Homo sapiens: one gene and its partners. The protein of the gene in region 1 purifies or fractionates together with the protein of each later gene. This does not show direct contact. Each region holds a gene or a part of one and is shown on either strand. Other genes may lie near its edges. The genes, in order: RHOQ, SLC39A10, NSF, ESYT1, PPA1, CPNE8 and CIBAR1.

Region 1 (3,500 bases):
TGCCAGCCCACAGTCTAAGCTGGCATAACCCAAACCCACATCAGAGTCCCAAGGAGGGGAACACAGGGCATTCAGACTTTGGAGCGAACACAGCAAAGGCTTTGGAGTCAACAAAGGCTATCCACCTTCCCAACGCAGAGGAGGAAACCAGCATTCCCGTGTGATGCGGTGTGGGCTAGAGATATAAATAGCTTCTAAAAAGGTTAGCAAAATGCACACATGACAAATCTACAGTAGGTTACTAAGGGAAACCAGGATGCTCAGTGCCAGCATCTCACCTGTTGCAGCTGATGCCTGGAAGGAACCCTGGGGCTCCTCCCAGGCTCTGCTCACCGGGCTGAGCAAGGATGGAACACGGGGCTACAAGGACCCAGAGTCTGATGTTGTGAGTGGCATTTCCTAAACCCTACTAATGTTCCCTGCAGGCCTTCTCCAAAGTAGAAAACCTTTTTCCTAATCACATCTCTGTCTGGTTCCCATAAGCCCACTTGTTCCCAATTTCCTCATCTGGGAGAAGTCTACCTTGAAGGGTGTTGTGAGGATGACTTGCCTGGAGGTGGGAGGAGCCTGGTGAGTGGTGATCCCATGGCCCTTTCTCCTTCCCTTTTCTCATCATGCCAGGCCCTTCTGCTAAAATGCAGAAGGTGGGGCATGCCAAGCCTGCCTCCGGTGGAGATTCCCTTCTGTAGGGGAAGTGCCTTGTGGGCACCCAGAGGGCATGCAGGGCAGCCACAGCTGCTGGGTTATATCAAGTGTAAAACAAATCTCACTTGTCATTGAAAAAGCAACACCAAGGGACACCAGAGTAAAAGATATTTATAGCTGTCATGGACGCTTCCCTGAACTTGTGTGTTTAAGTTAACAGACATAGAAACAATACATCCCAAAGCACACAAATTGACTTCCACACACTGAGACAGTGGCTAAATCTGGAACTCTAGGGATCCCAAATTCACCCCCAACACACATCCTCCTGAGTGTGGATATTCTGGGACCTGAATAAACTGGGCTTCAGTCCTTCCCTCTCCAGGGTATCAAGTTCTGCCTTCCTGCCAAGGATTAAGAGATCAGCCTAGAGCCCACAGCTAGAGAGCAGCTTGCCAGGCAGCTCCCCACTGGCCTGTCTGGACAGAGAGGGAGAGCTCTTTCCACTTCCCATCGCTCCAAACAGTGCAGTAGCAGGAGGGAAAATCCCATCTCTCCAGTCCCTCCTTGAGCAGACAATGGGGTTGCTGCAGAGCCTACACTGAAGTCCTGAAGGCTGGGCAAGAAAGGAGAAGCTCCACAGAGGCCCAGGCAGGAAGCCAACCCCTCACCCCCAAAACACACGCAAGGCCCCTAGTGAGAAGGAAGATGCCTCGGTCAACTTCCACTCCAAAATGCTTGGCAGTCAAAATGTGACAGCTGCTCCTGGACCACCCATGGGCTTGGCCAACAGAGGGGAAGTGTTCCCTTTGGCAGTGGTGCTCTGAGTGTGCTGGGATGTCCCCAGGCAGTGCACATGATGGGGACTGAAGTCCAATACACTCTCTCTCCCATTCTCTCTCTTTGTCTGCTAATAGCAGCAGAGGTCAAGTGGAAAGCAGCCTGCTCTAGAAGGCCAAAGGTCATCTACAACAATCACCCTTTGACTGGTAGATGCCCTAATATGTCAGTCGGACAAATGATGCCTATGGCTTTGAACTTGACTGGGGTTAAGGCAGGGACCATGAGTGAGCAAGTGGACTAGAGGTTCCAAACTGAGGGAGGCACTGTTGCTGTTATTCAAATACAATGAGTGCCCACATGCATGAGTGAACATTTTGGAGAGAAGGCAACTGACCTGTAGTGCCATGAGCTGCCTCATTCCATCTTAACTCTCTGAAAGTAGAACCAACTGAAGCCTACATACCCTACTTGTCTGTCAAATTCTGCATGGAACTCTAAGCTATTTCTCTTCTATCAATGGGGATACGGGCTCTGCTTAAGACAGAAAACCATCTGATACAACAGGGCATTTACGGCAGGGAGCACTGGGCTTGGAACCATGGATCCCACAATAGGGACTATGGGAATTACAATGCGCAAAGCTGTTGCACACCTTGGTTGAAAAGGTTCTAGGATCTGGCATTCTAGTGGAATTTCTATCAACTCCAGGCACAATATACTGTTCTCTTCCACTCTGTGAACCTTTCTCCCCACAAAACTCCCCATAGTGGAATATAATAATTTCCTGTACTATTTGTCACTCACCCACTATGCACAAAGTATCAGCTGCTTTTAAATATGTTAAAGAGTTTAAGCCAGCCTATGACCTTGTAATGCAGATTCTAATTATTCACGTTTTTACTAGATCACAAAGGTAAATAATTTAGCTAGAATCACATGACTAGCTAAGGTGGAGATCTGAGCCCAGGCCTGTTTTGTTCCAAAGCCCATGGACCTTTCTCTGCTGCCCACTAGGCTTAAGGATTTGTGTATATATATATATGTATATACATATATATATATATATATATATATATATATATATACACATATATATATATATATATATATGTATATGTGTATACGGATACATATATATATATATAAACCCTTAATGTTTTTTATTTACTTTTTATTTACATGTTTATTTATCATTGTTATTATTGTAAGACAAATCTGATATGGATTCCTAGAAGCCTGAGGTCTTAATGACCAAGTGCAATGTAGAGATCTCCTATGTAACACATGAACAGAGACCCGAGACAGACATTTCTCCCTTTGCTGACATCAGCTGTGGTAGATCCCCATTTTAAATTCATTCCTTTGCACTCCCCAGGTGCAAAAGTACCTGGACATAGTACCAGGTACACAGCAGGCACTTGCCATTTGGTCTCATCATTGCTAAGTTGCTTATTAGTAATAAACCCTCAAATGCTGGGAGATGAAATATTACTAGCTTTGATGCAAAAACAAAAGTCTAGACACTGGGAAAAACACCAATGGGGCCTAACACACATCTAGGCCCCACCAATGGTGTCCAGCATTGGGTGAAAACAGTAGTATTTGAGCCTTACTAATATGTTCATCCTGCTTGGTCTATATCTTATGATCCTCCACTAAAAAGAGTAATTACGGCCATATATGGAAAGCCCTGGTTTTGTAAGTGGGGTCAACTTCAAGTGACTCTGGATCTAAGTTCTCTCCTCTGTAGAGGTGCCATCCAACACCCACTCAGAGAATGGCTGTGAAGATTACAGGTACCACAACTATGGATGCACAAACAATCCAATCAACCCCGTGGCATCTCAGCATTCCCATGGTGTCCTGTGTGTATAACTACTTCAAACTGGAGCAGATTCAGACCCCTGTCCCAATCCTAGCAACACCCCTCAGTAGCTGTGTGACCTCAGGCAAGCAACCTAGCTTCTCTGAGCCTGTTTCCTCACCGCAAAGATGAAATACCACCTATCTCATGGGGTTGTTTTATGGACTAAATAAAATAATATTTGCATGTGTCTGCCTCTGGCCCCATA
Region 2 (3,500 bases), about 150 Mb from region 1:
CAATAAATAAATAAAAGCACAGTTCAGGCAACCCAATCTTTCCACTGAGATTCATTCATGTAAAAAGTTAAGTGCATGCTAATTAAGCTTGGGCATTAACTCAGTTCTCCTGTTTCACTAACTTGAGAGAGAATATAAACATTTATACCTTGATTTAAAGTATCAAATCAATCAACAACACATCATATCTATCTTTATTGTATTCTATACATTCATGTACAAACCTACATTTTCTCATCAAATGTCAAAACAATTACCTGCATTTCTGCTTTTCAGCCTTTCATTACAGGGAACCTGGAACCATATTGGAGAAAGCTACCTGTAATATTGCTACCTCTGTTCTGCTATTTGTGAATACAAACATCTGAGATTAGTAAATGCAGTCGTTGGGATGTCTTTTGAAGCTACTAAAATGTTTATGATTTTAGTTACATGCATTATGAAGCAGACTTACAGTGCTAACCAGCCAGATGCAGTGGCTCACACCTGTAATCCCAGCACTTTGGGAGACCAAAGCAGGCATATGGCTTGAGCCCAGGAATTTGAGAGCATCCTGAGCAACATGGCCAAACCCCATCTCTACAGAAAATGTTTTAAAAATTAGCCAGGTGTGGTAGCCCATGCCTGTAGTCCCAGCTACCTGGGAGGCTCAGGTGGGAGGATTACTTGAGCCCGGGAGGTCAAGGCTGCAGTGAGCTGTGATCGTACCACTATACTCCAGCCTGGCAACAGCTTATTGTTCTCTTTCCACTCATCACTGACAGCTGTCTTTATTCTAAAAATAGCTACTGCTGCACTACCTCAAATCTTTATTATTCCATGCATTTTCACCCTTCCCTTTTTCAGTGTCTTGTCACTGTTATACATCCTTGATTTTATACCAGCTTGCCATTGTAAAAACTGCCAGCTAAAATGATCCTTCTTTTCCATGACGTCATGGGAAAAAAATAATCAAAAAATCTCCAAGTCAATCTTTGTATAACATTGACTTTTTTTATGTTTCAGACAACACAGAGGCTACTTATTCCCCAACATGGGAGCTTTCTGTCCAATTAATTTTTTAAAACTACATAAAATTCTTGAACATAGAGTCTTGACCACATTCCCCTTTCTTATATAGCTACATTCAGAAACACAGAGCTGGGGTCTTTTAATATATGCATATTAAATAAAAGGACAAAAAAATCAAGCTAATTATTACCAGAAAAAACAAAGTTGTGCAGGAAAGTAGTCATTTATTACAATGGCACATTGTATAAAATAATATTTATAGCATAAAAATGTAACCCCAATTACTGTTCTAAACCAAAATTACAATGAAAATTGTACGGAGAAACTGGAGTACAGGAAATAGGAAGGTATGCACAGAAGTGAAAGAGCACTAAAATCATTCTTCATTAAATAGATAATGGTTAGAACTGAAAATCAGCTGCAAGTAATGAACATGTTATCTGGAGACATGGTAATGAATAGCAAAATAATCAACTAAAGGAATTAAGGGGTTCCTTATCTCTCTAGGCAGAATATGAAAGGAACAGACAGGGGACTGATTTTTCCCCCCAAGAAACTTCACACAACTATTTGATTCTTTAAACTATATTCATGTATAACTTTGAAAAAAACCTAAAAGTTGGCAATTATAAATTAAATTTTAGTTGACAAACCAATAAAATAATGTCACATGTGGAAGAAAATGAATTCTAGCTTTAAGATTTTCACAAGCATTTGTCTGTGGGTTTTTCAAGTATTTATTTTTTGAGGCAGGTTTCCACTGTTGCCCAGGCTGTAGTGCAGTGGTGCAATGATAGCTCACTGAAGTCTCAAATTCCTGGGCTGAAGCCATCCTCCTACATAGCTGGGACTACAGGTGCGCAGCACCACACCCAGCTAATTTTATTTATTCATTTTTTTGACAGAGTCTCGCTCTGTCACCCAGGCTGGAGTGCAATGGCGCAATCTCTGCTCGCTGCAACCTCCATCTCCCAGGTTCAAGCAATTCTCCTGCCTCAGCATCCCAAGTAGCTGGGATTACAGGCACCTGCTACCACACCCAGCTAATTTTTGTATTTTTAATAGAGACGCCATGTTGGCCAGGCTAGTCTCAAACTCCTGACCTCAGGTGATCCAGCCCCCCTCAGCCTCCCAAAGCGCTGGGATTACAGGCGTGAGCCACCGTGCCCGACCTCACACTGGGCTAAATTTTTTGTCGAGATGGTGGTTTCCCTATGTTGCCCAGGATGGTCTCAAACTCTTGGCCTTAAGTAATCCTCCCACCCCGGCTTCCCAAAGTGCTGGGATTACAGGTGTGAGCCACTGCACCCAGCCTGTTTGCAGTCTGAAACACAATATGCAAACATTTTAATTCCAATTTGTGCTATTATCTTTGATTACTTGCTTCGAATGAATTCCAAGATGAGGGGAAAAACTATAAAAACTTTAACACTTTTCAGGTTTTGTCATATACTTACTTTCCAAATTGATTTCTAGAGAAATTAAGCTTGGTTATACTGCCACCAGCAGTATGATCATAGCACTCTCATTCACATTATTATAAATTTTTAAATAAATAAAAGGTCTTACTTTATTTTTAATTCATATTTTTAAAGTTATTCCTGATGTCTCAATATTTTTTCCAACATATATGAGCTTTTACATAACATGATTCAGTCACATTTTCTGCAAAAACCCTGCAGTTCTGTTCCTTTTTATTTTGATCATGTTTTCCCTTTCATGTATAGATGTTTTCATGTACATGCAATGAAACTTATTAAGGTTTCTGCAATTTCTTCTATGACTGCTGCTAAATTTTAAAAGTTTTTTCTCCCCATATTTTAGTGTATATTTTCTTATTTTTTTTTAAAAGAAAAGCTATAATTAAAAATAACTCCTAAAAAACTAAAACCCCTAACATCTATTTCTTTTTTAGGAAAAAGAAAAATGTCAGTTGCACTAACATCCAACACTTTCACACACATATCAGTTAACTAAAAAACCTTAAGTACTTGTGTTTACGCAAAAATCTTCACAGAAAAAGATTTAAGAATTTGTTTTAGAAATTATATATTCCATGAAATTATATTTACAGTGAATTTAAAGAACTTTTTTCTTAATATATTTCAGTGATTTAACTTTAGCATACCTTTCTGATTTTCAATTTTTAACTGGCATGATTATTTGCTTGAAAATAAATTCTATATGTACACTGTATGTGCTTTCATAAGATGTTATATACATTCAATTATTCACTTTATTTGGAAAAAACGGGAGAGAAGGAGGAGGGAAAGGGCTGAAAAACTAGTTGTTGGGCACCATGCTCAGTACCTGGATGACAGGATCATTCATGCCCCAAACTTCAGCATCACACAATATAACCCAGGTAACAAACCTGTACATGTACCCCCTGAATCTAAAATAAAAGTTGAAAAAAAAAAAAAGAAAAAAACTATAGACTATCCTAATTTAAAACCCAAATCTTTTTTCTGTTTTAATATACAATTTAC
Region 3 (3,500 bases), on another chromosome or scaffold:
AGTCTCATTATGCTCATTTAATTTTTATTATCCGTATGTTGTCATATTTAGGTTATGTTCATTTTTTACCAGTTTTGTTAATCCCTAGTATTTTTTGTTTTTGAGACGGAGTCTCACTCTGTCGCCCAGGCTGGAGTGCAGTGGTGCAGTCTCGGCTCACTGCAACCTCTGCCTCCTGGGTTCAGGTGATTTTCCTGCCTCAGCCTCCAGAGTAGCTGGGATTACAGGCACCTGCCACCACACCCAGCTAATTTTTGTATTTTTAGTAGAGATAGGGTTTCACCATGTTGGCCAGGCTGGTCTCGAACTCCTGACCTAAGTTGATCCATCCTCCTCTGCCTCCCAAAGTGCTGGGATTACAGGCAGGAGCCACCGCACCCGGCCGTGTTTTTTGTTTATAAAAGAAAAAATTTCCAGAGTGCACTTTACTCCCTGATAGGAGACTAAATTACTTAAATATAAATTTTAGAAGGTACGTGTTAAATTAACCTAATGAATTAGTAGCATTCAGAAGTGTTTGTATCTGTTAAAGATTCAAAATATACAAACTAATTTCTTTTAATGGTGATTCTATTTCTAGTAAACTAAGGCAGAAATCATTATGCAGAAGAAACAGCACCCTGTTAACCATGTTCTTTTTATAAACCGTCTCTGTTCTCACTTTATTGTTAGGAAGGCGTAATCTGTTTTCATGTAATATAAGTACATGTGAGTCATGTTGAGTTTCTTCACTCATTTGTCCAATTCCCAGTCAACCTGTAGGTGGAGTTAACCTTTAGTTACATAATATAACGAAACAAACATTAAACCTACTGCTTCTGGGACAGTCTTCTCACCAAAACTCAGGGAAAATGGGAGGGTGTTGCCACTGACTGACTTAATGAAAGTATCTGACAAATGTAAGGTCTTTCAAATAGTGAGATAAGAAATGTATATAAATTATTTGATCGACTACTTACTTTCTATCTATACACACACACTATCAGTATATAATGTGTATTTTCATTTTATAGCTATTAAATATGAGGTTCTAGAATGAGTTTTCAGTTTGCAGAATTCTGAGAATCTAGTTCCAACACCTTTGAGAGGACAACAACCACAATTGCACTTGCCATATTTATTAGTCAAAATGAAGTGAAGTCAATCTGTTGAAAGCTTTGTTTTGTTTTTCTGATTAGTTTGTTTAATAAGACATTCAAATTATGATCTTTAATATAATTTCTTCCCCTAATAGCTTGGTGCTAACAGTGGTTTGCACATCATCATCTTTGATGAAATTGATGCCATCTGCAAGCAGAGAGGGAGCATGGCTGGTAGCACGGGAGTTCATGACACTGTTGTCAACCAGTTGCTGTCCAAAATTGATGGCGTGGAGCAGCTAAACAACATCCTAGTCATTGGTATGTTTACTTTTTAAAAAAGTACTATTCATTCAAAAACGTTAGCCATAAGTTCTGAATTAAGATGTGTGTAGGTTGTGATTAAACTGTTTTGCCAGTGTTTCCAAATTAGAATCCAGTGATATTGAAGAATCTATTGTAATGCCTAGGCTTAATAGGAAAAATAAAAGATGGATTTCAGTCACTTGTAGGTTTAAGCTTATAGCTCACCCACAGGTGAAAAAGATGTAGGTTGAAGCTTATAGCTCACCCAAAAATGAAAAATACACATGAAACAATGGAATGCAGTGGTTTTCAAACTGGGTCTTGCAGGCCTTCGGGGGTCCTCAGAGGTGCTTTCAGGGTCAGTGAGGGCCAGGGAGTGCGTTTCAGATCCTACATCACTATTATAACTTCCTCTTTTAGCTGTTTTATGTACTGAGGTGCTTCTGAAGATGACTTCTGGGGGAAAAAAAAAAAAAACACCCTGCTGTTTTATGAAGTCTGAAAACCACTGGCCTGTAAAAAAGAGAAGGAACTTTGGAGTCAGAGAGATCGTGTCACATTGCCCCTCTGTCACTTTGACAGATTATTTACCCTTTGAATCTTAAATTTTCTTTTTAAATACTGGAAGTTTTCATAACATTTATATTCCATTGGCTTATACAGTAGTGAAATAGTAAAGCAAAGTCTCCTTAGCTTGTTAGGGAAATTACTATTCTTACATATACTAAAAGGACATTTGATTTTATTTTTGAACTCTGATCATTTGTTGTTTTGTTTTAACATCTGTGTTCAGGAATGACCAATAGACCAGATCTGATAGATGAGGCTCTTCTTAGACCTGGAAGACTGGAAGTTAAAATGGAGATAGGTAAGGAGATCTGTCACTGATTGGGTGTGTGGTGGGGGGAGTGGAGGCATTTAGAGTTCATTAACAGGAACAATGTCATATGGTGTAGTATTTTTTAGAAAAGGTTTATATCATGAGAAGTAGATGTTTACATGCTTGAGTACCTATAAGGAAAACATTAGGATCATAATAATCTCCTCTAGGCTGGGCGCAGTGGCTCACACCTGTAATCCCAGCACTTTGGGAGGCTGAGGCAGGTGGATCACTTGAGGCCAGTTGTTCGAGACCAGCCTGGCCAAGATGGTGAAACCCCTTCTCTACTAAAAATACAAAAAACTTAGCCGAGTGTGGTGGTGTGCACCTGTAATTCCAGCTACTCGGAAGGCTGAGATAGGAGAATCGCCTGAATCCAGGAGGCAGAGGTTGCAGTGAGCTGAGATCGTACCACTGCACTCCAGCCTGGGAAACAGAGCGAGACTCTGTCTCAAAATAATAGTAATAATAATAATGATAATCTCCTCTGATGGTGCTTTCGAGACTAGGAAAATGCCTATTTTATTTTTAATTTCATCAGGCTTGCCAGATGAGAAAGGCCGACTACAGATTCTTCACATCCACACAGCAAGAATGAGAGGGCATCAGTTACTCTCTGCTGATGTAGACATTAAAGAACTGGCCGTGGAGACCAAGAATTTCAGTGGTGCTGAATTGGAGGGTCTGGTGCGAGCAGCCCAGTCCACTGCTATGAATAGACACATAAAGGTCAGGAAAATCAGCTAAACAGATTATAAACATTATGCCAGTATTCTTTCTCTTTCCTTTCAAGCATATCAAGGGGTAGGGAAATGCTGACTTTTGGTGGAGAAGAGATGGTAAAAGGAATAAGAATTAATTGTCAACTGCTAAATCTTCAGAGTAGCAGGAAGGAAGATAATGTTTGCATCTGCCCTGTAGTAACCACTGACTCATCTACCTTAGGTCATCACCATCTGACACAGACACGTAAAGTGAAAATTTTGAAGAAGTGTTTTTAAATCTTTGTATTGTATTAAAAGTTGTAATATGGCCAGGCATGGTGGCTCATGCCTGTAATCCCAGCACTTTGGGAGGCTGAGGCGGGCGGATCACAAGGTCAGGAGATCGAGACCATCCTGGCTAACACGGTGAAACCCCGTCTCCACTAAAAATACAAAAAATTAGCCGGGCATGGTGGCGGGCACCTGTAGTCCCGGCTACTCGGGAGGCTGAGGCAAGAGAATGGTGTGAAC
Region 4 (3,500 bases), on another chromosome or scaffold:
ATTAGCCGGGCATGGTGGTGCCTGCCTGTAATCCCAGCTACTCGGGAGGCTGAGGCAGGAGAATTGCTTGAACCCAGGTGGTGGAGGTTTCGGTAAGCCGAGATCGCACCACTGCACCCCAGCCTGGGCAACAGAGCGAGACTCCATCTCAAAAAAAAAAAAAAATATTATTCTGGAGCGACAGTTGGGGAACAATGGAGAGATATTCAGGGAGGTGGGGAGTCTAGGTAGATGGATTAAAAATAGGAATCAAGGGAAAAGAAGGAGAGGAGAAATGGTACAGATCTGGGAAGTCAGAATAGGGTATTCGGGAGGGGATGAAGAGGTGATTATCTCACTTGCACATCGAGCTCCTGGCTTTGAGGGTCTTGTAGGAAGAACCGGAACGCTTCCTCCCACACTGGGCAGTTGGTACTGTAGACAGCCTGGAGATGTAGAGGAGGGATTAAGGGTGTATACCACAGCACCATTCCTGTTTCTGCAGAAAACCCCTGCATGTAACAGGCATTCTAAAGGGGAAACCATCCCAAGAATAGGCCTCTCCCTGTCCTACCTGGCCACCCACAATGATGTCCTGGCCCTCACCTTGCTCTCCTGAGTCACATCCTGAATTGACAGTTGTACCATAGGGTTGGGTTCCTTGTTCCCCTTCTTCAGCTGTGGTGGGTACAATTCAGAGGTCACCATCTTGGGGGATTCGGTTTTGGTTTTGGTGAAGGAAGGTGGGATCGCATCAGAATCCTTTCCCTGAGATGGATCTGATCCCCTCCCTGGGACCCTTATGTTACATGCTGATACTTCTGGAGCAAAGCAGGCAGGGACATTTGCATCCTCAGCAAGGCAGGGTTGGGGAATGTTACATCCAGGGCTCCTGTTCACCCAGCCAAACTCACAGGAAGATCCTGGGCCCGATCCAGGTAGACAACTAAGATGGCAGCTGACGGGGGATCTGGTCGAGAGGAGACTCCCCAATTCCACTGTAGAACCTGGGGAGGGGTGGTAGTAGTCAGATCTTGGTCCCCGTTCCAAGTCCCCTACACTTCCAGCTACCTATTTCTCCCCTGCCAGCTTCCTATTTCCCATGTGGCTTACCTGCTCCAGTTTCTCTGCATCTGACAAAAGTGACAGCCATTCTAGCCTCAAGTGAACTTGGCCTTGCCCACCTTGTAGAGGGAACCACTAGAAGAAATTGAGATGTAGTAGAGATCAGATACCTGCTCAACTACTTCCCTACCAATGTAGCAACTACTATCTACCCAAAGGGTGAGATCAGCCCCCACCTTCCTCTTCTCCCAACTTACATCATCCAGAACGCTAGCCTGTAACACCTTCCCTACATCCAGCTTCATTCTGAGGGTTGGCGGGGGAGAGGGTAGTGAAAGGAAGAAAAGGGTAGTGTTGTAATTAGCAGCATGTCAGTGGCCCTCCACTCACCCACCCAGAAATGACTGGCAGATCTCAGACTCCCTTATTCCTCTCAGAAGATATTCACCTGCATGCGTGAGTATGTGCATGGTAGGGGCTGGGGGTGGGGAGGTTAGGAAGGAAAATGATACATGATTCCCAGGCCCAGAAAGTGAGTATAATTACCTCCAGAACCTCGGTAGCATGGGCTTTATTTTTTTTATTTTTATTTTTTTTCTTTAGAGACAGAGTCTCGCTCTGTCGCCCAGGCTGGAGTGCAGTGGCGCGATCTCGGCTCACTGCAAACTCCTCCTCCCGGGTTCACCCACCATTCTCCTGCCTCAGCCTCCCGAGTAGCTGGGAGTACAGGCGCCCGCCACCACACCCGGCTAATTTTTGTATTTTTAGTAGAGATGGGGTTTCACCGTGTTAGCCAGGATGGTCTCAATCTCCTGACCTCGTGATCCGCCCGCCTCAGCCTCCCAAAGTGCTGGGATTACAGGCATGAGCCACCGTGCCTGGCCAGCATGGGCTTTAGAATCCTAACAGGCAGAGTCTCACCTGCCCAGAAAGTCATCTTTATCTGGATCCTTGTCGAACACCTCCACTTCAATCTCCTGCCCTGGGACCTCGTGTACCATCACCTGGGGAACACAGAAGGCTGAGTGTCTCATGGGGCTGCAGCTGTGAGGATCATCCAATCAGCATCTTCTCTCACAACCTCCTGGGGCTTCCCCATTTCACAGAGCTGCTCAACTCTCCCACCTCATAAGTCTCTCCCCACTGTGGGTTGAGTTCTTCATCAATGACACGACTGCAGAATGTCTGGGTACCCAAACGCACAAGTGCATATGGGTCTGACTTGCCCTCAATCAGGCCCTTCACATATTTGTCCTTGGAACTCAGCCCTCGAGCAGCCAGCAGGTGAATTCGAATAATGCCCTGGAGGAAGGAATCAGATGGTGAGAAACTAAGGACCCAGCAAGGGGTTCCTGAGAGAAGGATCTATCTAGTGGGGGAAAGGCCATACCCTGGGCAGAGGGGAACGCAACTGAGCCACATCTTGAAGGTCAGGCACAAGGGGCACCAGTAATCGGTTGGGCAACACGAGGAAGGCAGCAATGGAGTCCATGATCATGGTGTCAGAGAGTGAGCTGAATGGGGGAGTAGAAAGGAGTGGGTATGGCCTCAACTTCCAATTTTCTCCTAACCCCAACTATGTTTCCCACACCCAAGAGAGACCTAAAGCTGTAAGAAAGTCCTTTTGTGAAAATCCTTTGTGCTACTCTTCTACCCTAATTCCCCACCTACTGCTCTCTCCCTTCTTCACTGCCATCCCCATTGCCTTTTGCAGTCTTCAGCCCTCTGCATTCCCTTCCTGCTCCCCCAACCCAAAGAAAAATCACAGTATCAAACTTTGCAGGGGTATTTGTCTTTGCTCCCCAAATGAAGTTGAGGCTCCTAGAGGACACAAGCAGCATCTTTGACTGCTCTGTGTCCCTTAAACCCCCAACCCAGCGCTGGAACACTCAGCAGGTGCTCAGTAAGTCCTTGATACCTAAGTCCTGGGATATCCAGCAGGTTGGTCATCCCTGTCCAGTTGATGTCTAGGGTCTGGAGGGAAAGAGCAGGGGTCAGGACAGATCCTATGGGGTGTGGTCATACCCATCAAACAGTTGCCAGAACCCCTCGGCCTTCTTGTCAGTTCCCTTCTCATTCCCCTTCACTGGCTGCCCTCATCCTCCCAGTCCTCTGTTTCTCCTGCTTCCCCATACCCCTTCATTGTTTTCCCTTACCGGGCGTCGGATGAAGAACATTGACACAGCCCCCACGAAGGGAAGGTCCCCAATGAGTGGCTCCAGTATCACCCGCAAAACGCCATGTAGCTGAGGCAAGAAGAGAAAATCAAAGCCTTTCCCCAGAAAAGTCCCTCTTCTGTCCTCCCAGACTTTCTCAGCCTTGGTCTTTCCAACCTCACACTTCCCCATATCCCATGAAACGCAGGACAAACATTCCCTATTATGTGGCCCCTGACATCTGGCCTACCTGCATGCCCTTGACTCCTGCTTTGCAAAAATATTTCTTCACTTCCACAT
Region 5 (3,500 bases), on another chromosome or scaffold:
ATATGATGCCATTTACATGAAATAACAGCATAGGCAAATCCATAGGCACAAAGTAGATCTGCAGTCATCAGGGACTGAGGGAAGGGGGACAGGGAGTGATTGCCCATGGATACAGGATTTCCTCTGGGCTGATGAAATGTTCTGCAATTAGAGAGTGGTGATGGTTGTACAACTTAGTGAATATACTAAAAACCACTGAATTGTACATTTTACAATGGTGACTCTTTGATATGTGAATATCTCAATTAAATGTTTTAAAATAAATAAACATACCAACTGAGTGCTGGTATGTGGGGAAGGAAAGGACCAAAAAAACAGTAAGAACCTACCAGATTTTTTCTTTCCTGGAATGAAGGAGAAAGTTTACTTAGTTAATTACAAGTGCAGTCATAGAAATAATGCTTGTCCAGTGCTTTGTTCCTCCATCCTTTAACAGTTTGAAGGTAAGGGCTTACAATTCTGTCATTATAGGTTAAGTATGGTGGTGCTTATGAATTAATTAGAAAGACTTCAGACTTTTCAAATTTTCTTACCATTATAATTGGCTGCATCAGGATCATCCACATTAATGGCAATGACTTTCCAGTCGGTTTCCCCTTCGTCAATCATAGCCAATATGCCTAGAACTTTCACGCCAATTATTTCACCTCTTGCACATACCTGAGAGTCAATAGCCAAAGTCAGGACAACATTACAGAACCACACTCTAGAAGACAGTTTTACTTGGCTAACAGGAAATAAGAAAGAGGCCAAGTTCTTGAGAATTTACCTGAAGATTGTTCCTTTAAGCAAATTTTAAAAACCTAAATGAGTAAATGTTTCATCAGTCCTATTAAAGTTGAAAACAGGACTTATAGGTCCTATTTTCTTCTAGGTCATAGGGAAACCAGTACATAGCTCAGGGTAATCAATGTTTTTTGCACTGTCATTGATTATACTGAAGAATAAGTCCTCCATAGTCTCAAATACGTATCTTAATATGCTTTACCTTTTATTTTATAAAAGTCATGAGTTAAGCAAGTCATACGATGACTCAAAAACTTTATGACTTAAAAAACAAAATGATAACTTTGTTTTTAGTTGTTTACTATTTCTCTGCACCTGAGAGAGACATAAAGAAATAACTATAATCAGAATCTTAGAACAACCCTACTTGATGGAGGAGTTACTACCATGGATCTCCAACTCATGAGGTTATTTGGTTCGGGTCAATTTACTGATCATTCTAAATTGTTAGGCAAGATTTGCCATGTTTTGAGAGGGAATTTCCCTCCTGGTACCTTTCACCTATTGACTAATTATCCATCTTCTAAAGCAATGCAGAACATGTCCAGTTCTTCTAGATATATGTTCAATCATACATACATAGACACATTTTTTTCCAGACTAGATTTAAATGTAAAAATTATAATATACAAATGCTTAAAATGCAAGAAGCCTTTAATACCAAAGAGACATCATTATTTCACTAATATTCATGCATTTTATTCACAGTATTTTTTAAAGTATGAAATTTGGTATACTTCATTAATATCTCAACACTAAAGAAAAAAATGTCACATTTCATTACCTTGCTTCCAATTTCACACACATCAATTGGGTCATTGTCACCACAACAGCCAGTATGTTTATCATTGTGCCCTGGGTCTTCCCAAGTCTAAAAATATAAGACAGTGTATATCATTCCTATACATACTGACAAAATGGATCATGTTGAGAATAACAGATAACATCCTATGACTCTTCAGCTACTTTTTTCTCATTGTTTTAGTTCTTTATTCGCATTTAAGAATCTTAACTACACACAAGAGTTTCAATTAAATGCTGTAGCTCCTACTACACATCTAATGCTAAACTAAATTTAAGCTTTAAAACAGATAATGATCCTATTTAAAACAAGCAAAAGCCAACTACTCAATAACTGAGACAATAGGGAAACACAAATATAGACCCAAACGTTTACTTTAAAGATGTGTGGTTTTAGGCTGGGTATGATGGCTCATGCCTGTAATTCCAGCACTTTGGGAGGCTGAGGAGAGTGGATCACCTGAGGTCAGGAGTTTGAGACCAGCCTAGCCAACATGGTGAAACACTGTATCTACTAAAAATACAAAAATGAGCCAGGCGTGGTGGTGCATGCCTGTAATCCCAGCTACTTGGGAGGCTGAGGCAGGAGAATCGCTTGAACCCAGGAAGCAGAGGTTGCAGTGAGCCTAGATCATGCCACTGCACTCCAGCCTGGGCAACAGAGCAAGGCTCAATCTCAAAAAAACAAAACAAAACAAACAAAAAAAGAAAACAAAACAAACAAAAATGTGTGGTTTTTTTCTTTTTCTTTTTTGTAGAGACAGGGTCTCACTATGTTGCCCAGGCTGGTCTCAAACTCCTGGGCTCAAGTGATCCTCCCACCTTGGCCTCCCAAAGTATGGGATTATAAGCATAAGCCACTGTACCTGGTCTTAGATTTTCTTTATAATAAATTCCCAAAACAGAAGTAGATAGGCAATAATAGTAAAATGGAAAGGTTGTTTTTCTTCTTCCTTTTTTTTCTTTTTTTCTTTTTTTGCGACAGAGTCTTGCTCTGTCGCCCAGACTGGATGGAGTGCAGTGGCGCAATCTTGGCTCACTGCAACCTCTGCCTCCCATGTTCAAGCAATTCTCCTGTCTCAGCCTCCTGAGTTGCTGGGATTACAGGTGTATGCCACCATGCCTAGCTAATTTTTGTATTTTTAGTAGAGATGGGGTTTCACCATGTTGGCCAGACTGGTCTCGAACTCCTGACCTCAGGTGATCCTCCCACCTTGCCCTCCCAAAGTGCTGGGATTACAGGCATGAGCCACCACACCCAGCCAAAAGGTTATGTTCTGATGTTAAAAGTATCATCACTGACCAGGAGCCCGGACTGAAAAGTTTAATCAGAATTTTCTGGAGCTTTACATGACTGGTTTTCTTTCCTTCCTAAATTGTAAGCCAGAGTCCTTGCAGAACATCTCACAAAAGAACTGAAAGCCTGTGCTAGCCAGGATGTTAGGTTTAAAATGTAGCTGTTGCATTGGTTCTTTTTTCCTCCAACTAGAACACGTTACTCAGATTTGTTTGTCTACTCAGCTGGAGTAAAGGCAAAAAGATAAATGAGAAGGGGGATAAAGGAAGACCACATCTAACAAATCCAACATTAAGAAAGCAAAATCCAACCCACAGAAGAGTAAGTATTTCAGCAATGTTCTCCTACAAGGATGATATATCAAGGCTAAATACTATTAATAAATCAATTGAGGCCGGGCGTGGTGGCTCATGCCTGTAATCCCAGCACTTTGCAAGGCCGAGGCAGGCAGATCACAAGGTCAGGAGTTTGAGACCAGCCTGGCCAATACAGTGAAACCCTGTCTCTAATAAAAATACAAAAAATTAGCTGGGCGTGGTGGTAGGCGCCTGTAATCCCAGCTACACAAGAGGCTGAGACAAGAGAATCACTCGAACCTGAGAGGCAGAAGATGCAG
Region 6 (3,500 bases), on another chromosome or scaffold:
AGTATAATTCTATTACTGATAATTCATTTTGTATACACATGACATTCACCAGACTCCAGAGAGCCGCTTACAATTATAATTTTGGCCTCATCACCCATCTCCCTGGCCCCAATACTGCTCAGTCAGCATACAATCCTCACTTCTTTACTCTTTTCTTCAGTGCTTAGATAATGCATTTGGGTTGAAAACATTGTTTTCAATTTTACCTTTCTACACATGTTCATGAGTCAATGCTTGGGCTGAAACGCTGCTAGTATACATAATTAACAGAGAGCTACTGTTCAATAATTTGTCAAGGTGTACAATATATATCATAATTATGTAAAATCTGTATATTACCAATAATAAGATAATTATCCCAATGCAGAAGACATTTTTTAATCTCCCTTACTTCTTGGATATGTAAATATAACTCATTATGTTCAAATACTTTCAGTAAATAATACTTTTTATATCTAAATTTGCTTTTACAATTTTCACATTACTTTGGGACATAAATATGCACCAATGGTAACACTCAGTGGTCACAAACACTTCTCCATTATTCTCTAATATGTTAATAATTTACAACAATTACCCTATACACATGCTAAAATGGGAAACAAGAATTAGATGATAATCTAGGTCTCACTTTCCACAGTCTTCTACAATCCCCATTGGTCTTTGTGTTTCATTCCAATTAATGAAGAAAAGGACAGTCATTTAGGCAATACTGTATTAGCATGAAGTCCTATAAAATATCTCCCACTTTTCAGCATGTCTGGTTTAAAACACTGTAGACAGCAAGAAGTGGAGGCTGTGCTTTTGAGAGCAAGAAGAGAGATGGTGTGTAAGTGGTGGAGGGGTCAGGTCTACTCTTCAGGTGTGCAGACCATCTGGTCCTCAAGCAGGTGGAGATTATGAACCCCAGTCTCCCACCATTACCTCTTCCTGGAAAGGTGTATGAGACAGATTTGCATTTCTTTCTAGCCATGGGAGACACAATGAAGTTAGAAACCCTTTTATTTATCCCCTTCGTCTAACTCGAATCAAAGCAGATAGCCAGATGCTGCTTTAATTTGACTTTTTGGCTGCCTTTTAAGTATAAAGAAATCTTGCTTTGAGAAATCTTTCTTTATAATAAAGGTTCTTTTTTAGTACTGAAAAAGAGTCACTGGGGAAATTTATGTAGATAGTTTTAAAATGGTCTTATCAAAATACAGAGTTAAATTTAAATAATCTAATAGTCTATTCTTATTTCCTGTACCTTCAAAGGACAGATGGCAACATATTGTATTTCTTGCCCATGGAAACAATGTCTTTCAGGTTAAAAAATGTGTAGATGTTGGCTTTATGTGGTTAGCTGATGAAATCTGTGATATGGTTTGGCTCTGTGTCCCCACCCAAATCTCATCTAAAATTGTAATTCCCATGTGTTGAGGGAGGGACCTGTAATCCCCACATGTAGAGGGAGGGAAGTGACTGGATTATGGGGGTGGTTCCCCCATGCTGTTCTCGTGATAGTGAGTGAATTCTCACAAGATCTTATGGTTTTATAAATGGCCCTCTTTCCTGCCCTCTCACATGCTCTCTCTCTCTCCTGCCACCATGTAGGATATGACTGTTTCCCCTTCCACCATGATTCTAAGTTTTCTGAGGCCTTCCCAGCCATGTGGAACTGTGAGTCAATTAGACCTCTTTCCTTTATAAATTACCCAGTCTCATTTCTTTATAGCAGTGTGAAAACAGACTAATACAATTTGCCAGTTGGATTTAGGTCAGTCAGTTCATATGTGTGATATATACACTTACTCTAGAGTAGATTTGGAAGTGTCATGAGAGGCTCCTCTGATAGGAGAGCAACAATTTGACTAGTCAGAGATTTTTCTATATTAAACATGAGTTTAATATAGAAATTTTTTTTAAGCCATGAAGAGATGTGTTTTGAAAGGAAAAAAGGAAAAATATTTTAGAGAAGCACCTGTTGTCGCCTAGCAGAATAATCTACTTTTCTAGTACTGGGCCCAGAAGTTTTTCTATCCCATTAGAACTTCCATCATGGTGAAAACAGAAACCAGGTGTTACAGGAGCCTAATTCCCTGTTCCCATGTTTCCAGAGGAAAATTTCACTCTAACTTCTGGGAAGGCAACTTCCCTTTTCATCTACAATCTTCATTTACCTTTCTGCATGGAAAGAGGAATAGGATTACTAAGATTAGGAGAAATAACTGAGCTTGAATCACTCTCATTTGGAGCAGCACTATCCTGAGGATAAGTATAATTTCTCTCGGTGGCATGCTTAATAGGCAAAACTCCGCCTCTATAAGGAGAAGTCCTGGAGATAAGAATGAGATAATTTAATTTTGGAGGGAAAAAGTAATGGGAATGTGATTGTCCACAGGTTAACCCAAGTTCTCAAATTCTGCATTGCTAGTAATAAAGCTGATAGAGTGATCCGAATGATTCTTGCATATATTTTTTTCCAGTTAGTTCAGGACCTCACAGAGAGAAAATGATGAATTATCATACCTTAAAACCCTAACAAATTTGCTGGGAACTAAAGAAACGAAGAAAATAAATAGCTGTGGCTATTGGATAAGGGCAGTAGCAAAACGGCTGTGCCTGCTGCTCTGTATAGAAATGTGTTACCAGAAATATATGCCAGGAAGGGTCAGTGGCTTTGCATTTATGAATCAGGTGTGGGAGCTCTCAAAGAAAAAGAACTGATTGAGGTTTACCATCTCTGAGGTCATATGCCTAAAGGTGGACTTCCATAGGAGTCTGAGAGACCTGAGATATACCCATGAAAGATACATCCTTCAAAGTCAAAAGCAAATAGTAGCCAAAGAAGAAAGCATGAGTTATTTTAGCCTACCAATTGGTGAAGTTTGTGAATCACAGTCTATCACTAGTTAATGCAGATTATCAAGTGTGCAAAGCATGGAGAGGAAAGATGTCTTAGCCTTCCTGTCTCCAGAGAGGTATCTGAAATTCATGCCCGAAGTACAACTCAAGTAGATGCTAATAGAGATAGAGAAAATAACAGGAGAAGCAGTGTTGGTGAGGGATAAATGACTTGCTTTTGAAACTGTAAGATTATCATGCTAGAAAGGATGACCAGCCAAGATTAGAATTTAGGGATTCCAGGGTCAGCAATACAACTTGCCTGTGGTGCTTTACCTGAGACTGACAGCTCTTTATTATTCTCATGCAGGAGGGACTGGTGGTTAAATAAGAATCACCTCAGTGATAATTACAATCTAGTTAGCCACCTATGTGCTTAAGTTAACCAGTAACTTACAAAGATTGTGTCAAACATTCTAAAACCATTCTCATTTCCAAAGCCTCAAGCTAAATAAGCTGCCATTGTTAATATAAAACACCTGAACCAGGTGAATATTATGTGGCTGTGTACTTGCTGTCTAGCACAAAGTTCTCTTAAAGGAATTTATCAGATGACTACGAACATTTACCCAGATCACTCGTTACACAAACATTTGTCTCTTAATGGGCATTTGAAC
Region 7 (4,168 bases), on another chromosome or scaffold:
ATACAAGACCAAAATCACATTTAATCTGTCTCAAAGGGTTCAAAGTCTAGGGTACAGGAGGCAGTACAAAATCAACGAAGTGTACTGTTTGAGCATTCCAACACTTCGCTCCTTCAGACAGTATTAGGACCCCGTCCCAAAGCGTTAGGACAAGGCCCTAACGCTGCCTGAAAAAGTGAAGTGACGGAGGATCCCAGAGAGGTTTCTTGAAGCAGATAAAGTCTGAATTGAGGCCGGGCCCGGTGGCTCACGCCTGGAATCCCAGCACTTTGGGAGGCTGAAGGGGGGCGGATCACTTGAGGCCAAGAGTTCAAGACCAGCCTGGCCAACATGGCGAAACCCCGTCTCTACTAAAAATACAAAAAATCAGGCCAGCATAGTGGTGCACGCCTGTAATCCCAGCTATTTGAGAGCCTGAGGCAGGAGAATCGCTTGAACCCAGGAGGCGGAGGTTGCAGTGAGCCGAGATTGTGCCACTACACTCCAGCCTGGGCAACAGAGCGAGACTCCATCTAAAATACATATATAAATAAACAAAGTCTGAATAGAGTCCTTGCAGTATTTACTGGGAAAAGCAGCACACGCAAGGCCAGGAGGGTCAAAGGGACAGAGGCGTTCAAAGGACAAAGGAGAGCCTCCTGTTTGTTTGGGGTTTTATTCTTTTTGAATTTTTGTTCCCCCAGGCCAACTCTAAGAGCCAGAACTGTTCGTTATTTATCTCAGCACAGGTTCGGTGTAAGCGTTGCCTCCTTACCCGACGCTCAGGCCCTTCAGGTCCGGGACCCCTGCTTCTTAATTATGTTTCTATTACTCCCAGTGTCTAACACAATCTCTTCCACGAAGTCGGAACTTGATACATATTTGCTGAATAAACGAAAAGTTAAAGATGAGGCAGAAAGCACAGCTCCTTCCAAGGGCAGCTCTCAAGAGCCCACGTTTTCAGATTCAGCAGTGAAGCGGACGCGTCTGGTACGAGACTACAAGTCGCACAGGCGGAGAGGGGGCCCCCGGGCCTCTGGTTTCACGTCTCCCTCCTGGTCCCCGGCGGACCGGCGTCTTTTCTCCCCTGCTCGGAGTAGCCTAGCAGCGCTGGAGGCTGGCTGTCTGGTAAGCGCGGCTGTTAGAGAGGATGGAGGCGCCGTAGCCCCGCGGTGCTTCTCACAGCCTTCGCCGGCAGGGACGCGCGGGACAACCGCGCAGGCGGCTCTGCAGGGGTGGGCGCGCCATCACCCCTCTCGGTCCCTGCCTGCTTGGCGCTTTCCGAGCCCCAGCCGCGCTCAGGCTGCCTCGGGCATTGACCGCGGGGGCGCGCGCCCCGTTTCCATAGAAACGCCCGGCCTGCCGCGGCGGCGCGAGGGGCGGGCTTTCAGGCTCCCGGCGGCTGCTTGCGCCCCAGCGCGCGCCCAGGCGCCTTGGAATCCCCGTCCTTGGGCCCCCGCAAGGTCCCCGGCCGTGCGCGAGGCAGCATGATGAGGCGCACCCTGGAAAACCGGTAACAGCCCGAGCCCAGCTGCCCAGGGCCGCCCACACTGGAGGGCTGGGGTGAGGGAAGTGGAAGCCTCTGTCCATGGGGCCTCTGCGCCGAATTCCGACCCTGAGTGGGAGGCTGCACGGTCCCCGCTGTGACCTGGGGCCTAATTCCTTGGGCTGCAGCCACCGCCGGCGGCGAAGAGGAGCCCGGGGCCCGGCCGGCTGCCACCCACCCACGCCACCGGGTCTCGGGTCCCCACACTGCCGCGGGCAGTGCGGAAGCCTAGGAGGCAGCCGGGCGCCCAGGCCGCGCTGCGCGGAGCAGCCGGAGCAGCCACCTCCCCAGTTAAGGCCAGGCCCACCCGGCCTGGGCCTTTTCCTGTGCCTACACAGTCCGGATAGTGAGGTCAGGACCCCATGGAGAGCAGTCCGCGCCGGGAGACGCTGGGTCGTTGATGGGTTTACGCCTTCAAAGCTGCAGAATGCCCGGGGAATGTTTGCATGTTAAATTAACGTGAAGCCTTCTCATCTCTAACGAGAATGTTTTGCCTTTTGTGTCACCTTTTCCCTAGGAACGCTCAAACGAAACAACTGCAAACAGCTGTCTCAAATGTGGAGAAGCATTTTGGAGAACTGTGCCAAATCTTCGCTGCCTATGTGCGGAAAACTGCCAGGCTGAGAGACAAAGCAGACCTCCTGGTGAATGAAATTAACGCGTATGCTGCTACAGAGACCCCGCATTTAAAGCTGGGCCTGATGAACTTTGCAGATGAGTTTGCCAAACTTCAGGATTATCGACAAGCAGAGGTATGGAGTGAGATCACAGTGTCATTGTTATGAATGAGCCATGAAGTAGTGGATGAAGGAACCGTGGAAACTTTCACTTGTAATCTACCTAACTGCAGAGGTGGATGCAAACTTGATAAAACGTACATTTTCATAAGACTGTGTGAGTCTATTAAAGAGAAGCGTTCTGTGTTTTATTTTACCCTTTTCAAGCTAACCTTTAGGGCATCTTGAGGTCTTGAATTTCCCCACTTTATTTGCCAACTTTTGGCCAAGGGGTGGCTGTTTACTGGGGGTAGTGGGAATAGTACCCAGGGGGAAGAAAATAAGCATAACTTAATGTCTTGTGTGGCACATAAGTACGTTTTAAAGAATGACTGGAGATGGAAATGTTGGGAATGGTAATGTGGATGGATAAATTATTAATAAATGGGTAAGACATCATTGCTGCATCCATGGTTTGGAAAATTGACCAATGGTTTACTAACAACAACAAAATGCTATGAATTGTATCATGGAAGCAAACCAATACTGAGACACCGTGTGGACTTTTTGCTCTGGGTAGCAGGAGAAGTGTCCTTGTGATTGTTTTCTTTCTAAAAGCCCATATTTTTCCTTTAAATACTTAATAAGCACTTTTACTTGTATTTATTTTCAGTTTCACGGCATAGGTTAACTTATCAGAAGTTGCCCAGTTAGAACTGCGTTGCTTTTTTATACTTTTCAGAACCTAAAACGGGAATTTCAATTTTCAAAAAACAGAATGAGTATAAAAAAAATTGAACTCATCATTGCTATCCATACAAATTTGAAGAGTAATCATATTTGGAGGTACTTTTGGAAAAATGTGGAGTTCTTGTCATGAAACTTCTGTAATAAACAAGTAACTCTCAATTATATATGATAACTGGGGACTTAATGTTTCAAAGATAATTTATATTCACAGGTAATCCTAAAATCTTATTTTAGCCAATAATTTCAATGCCCCTTTGTAGAAAACCTTTGTGCTATTTATCAAATAGCAAAGTGAATTGATTTGCATTTGTTCTCCTTTTATTTCCCTTGCTTACCAAATGGTGGAGGTCCTAATGAACAATGACAAAAAGGTAGGCAACAAAAAGGAGAACAGAAAAAAGACTTAGATAATCCTTAAACTGAATAATCAGTATGGATTATAAGAAATGGTGTAAAGCAAACTGTCCTGAATATCCATGATTTTAGGATTCCTAATATTTGAATACTTGATGAGAAGTCGATTTTTATTTTCCTAACATGTTTTAAAATGAAACATTCATATACATTTCATTTACAGAAACTAAAGAAAAATCAATATGAAATTAAGTGTATTTGTCAATTATATAAATATGTATCATTAAAAAGCCCTTTTCCTGCTATTAAAAAATGTTCATTTTAAGCAATTGAATACATCACCTATCTTGAGAAAAAAAATTTTAATGTCCAAGAGTTATTTTTCTTATGCTATATTTAAATACTTGCCTTAAAAAAAATCTCTCTTCAGTGCCTTCCACTAGTACTACTTGTAAAAGAAGTAATTACTCAAAATGTGATTTAAAAACCTGTAACGTTTAAGAAAAACTATTTAATTCTAAATGAAACAGAGATGAAACATACAGTTTGACAGCTCAGCAACTCAGACCATTTATCTTGTTCTGTAGGCTTCGATAATTCACAAATGGCTTCTCAGAAAAAAAAATGCAGCAAATACAGTGATCTCTAAGCTTTTTTGCTTTTCAAGGTTATGTTGCTTTAAATGTTTCCAAGATGCTCTGTCTTTCAGCTTTGATTTTCTTTTCTGAAAAGTTGAGCTATTACAGTTCAGAGATAATATATGCAAAGTATCCATTACTGTGCTGAACACACTGAAAATGTTAGCTGTATTAAAATTTGAACT

The links.
Region 2: the proteins of RHOQ (region 1) and SLC39A10 purify together in Homo sapiens (affinity purification with mass spectrometry, with the first as the bait; one study listed by BioGRID). This does not show direct contact.
Region 3: the proteins of RHOQ (region 1) and NSF purify together in Homo sapiens (affinity purification with mass spectrometry, with the first as the bait; one large-scale study listed by BioGRID). This does not show direct contact.
Region 4: the proteins of RHOQ (region 1) and ESYT1 purify together in Homo sapiens (affinity purification with mass spectrometry, with the first as the bait; one study listed by BioGRID). This does not show direct contact.
Region 5: the proteins of RHOQ (region 1) and PPA1 purify together in Homo sapiens (affinity purification with mass spectrometry, with the first as the bait; one large-scale study listed by BioGRID). This does not show direct contact.
Region 6: the proteins of RHOQ (region 1) and CPNE8 purify together in Homo sapiens (affinity purification with mass spectrometry, with the first as the bait; one study listed by BioGRID). This does not show direct contact.
Region 7: the proteins of RHOQ (region 1) and CIBAR1 purify together in Homo sapiens (affinity purification with mass spectrometry, with the first as the bait; one large-scale study listed by BioGRID). This does not show direct contact.

Annotation. Positions count from the first base shown.
Region 1 is NC_000002.12:46,545,490-46,548,989, reverse strand, and holds part of RHOQ (rho-related GTP-binding protein RhoQ), read right to left. Parts: intron 1-3,500. UniProt on the Homo sapiens protein: Plasma membrane-associated small GTPase which cycles between an active GTP-bound and an inactive GDP-bound state. In active state binds to a variety of effector proteins to regulate cellular responses. Involved in epithelial cell polarization processes.
Region 2 is NC_000002.12:195,663,726-195,667,225, reverse strand, and holds part of SLC39A10 (zinc transporter ZIP10 precursor), read right to left. Parts: intron 1-3,500. UniProt on the Homo sapiens protein: Zinc-influx transporter. When associated with SLC39A6, the heterodimer formed by SLC39A10 and SLC39A6 mediates cellular zinc uptake to trigger cells to undergo epithelial-to-mesenchymal transition (EMT).
Region 3 is NC_000017.11:46,691,669-46,695,168, forward strand, and holds part of NSF (vesicle-fusing ATPase), read left to right. Parts: intron 1-1,234; coding exon 1,235-1,400; intron 1,401-2,178; coding exon 2,179-2,253; intron 2,254-2,806; coding exon 2,807-2,994; intron 2,995-3,500.
Region 4 is NC_000012.12:56,131,267-56,134,766, reverse strand, and holds part of ESYT1 (extended synaptotagmin-1), read right to left. Parts: coding exon 3,451-3,500; intron 3,291-3,450; coding exon 3,201-3,290; intron 3,019-3,200; coding exon 2,963-3,018; intron 2,559-2,962; coding exon 2,435-2,558; intron 2,347-2,434; coding exon 2,170-2,346; intron 2,049-2,169; coding exon 1,966-2,048; intron 1,351-1,965; coding exon 1,302-1,350; intron 1,180-1,301; coding exon 1,093-1,179; intron 987-1,092; coding exon 894-986; intron 688-893; coding exon of another isoform or gene 658-687; coding exon 586-657; intron 426-585; coding exon 339-425; intron 1-338. UniProt on the Homo sapiens protein: Binds calcium (via the C2 domains) and translocates to sites of contact between the endoplasmic reticulum and the cell membrane in response to increased cytosolic calcium levels.
Region 5 is NC_000010.11:70,212,930-70,216,429, forward strand, and holds part of PPA1 (inorganic pyrophosphatase), read right to left. Parts: intron 1,658-3,500; coding exon 1,571-1,657; intron 661-1,570; coding exon 534-660; intron 1-533.
Region 6 is NC_000012.12:38,671,592-38,675,091, forward strand, and holds part of CPNE8 (copine-8), read right to left. Parts: intron 1-3,500. UniProt on the Homo sapiens protein: Probable calcium-dependent phospholipid-binding protein that may play a role in calcium-mediated intracellular processes.
Region 7 is NC_000008.11:93,699,182-93,703,349, forward strand, and holds the start of CIBAR1 (CBY1-interacting BAR domain-containing protein 1), read left to right. Parts: upstream 1-1,368; 5' UTR 1,369-1,466; coding exon 1,467-1,492; exon of another isoform or gene 1,493-1,567; coding exon of another isoform or gene 1,568-1,876; intron 1,877-2,042; coding exon 2,043-2,277; intron 2,278-4,168. UniProt on the Homo sapiens protein: Plays a critical role in regulating mitochondrial ultrastructure and function by maintaining the integrity of mitochondrial morphology, particularly the organization of cristae.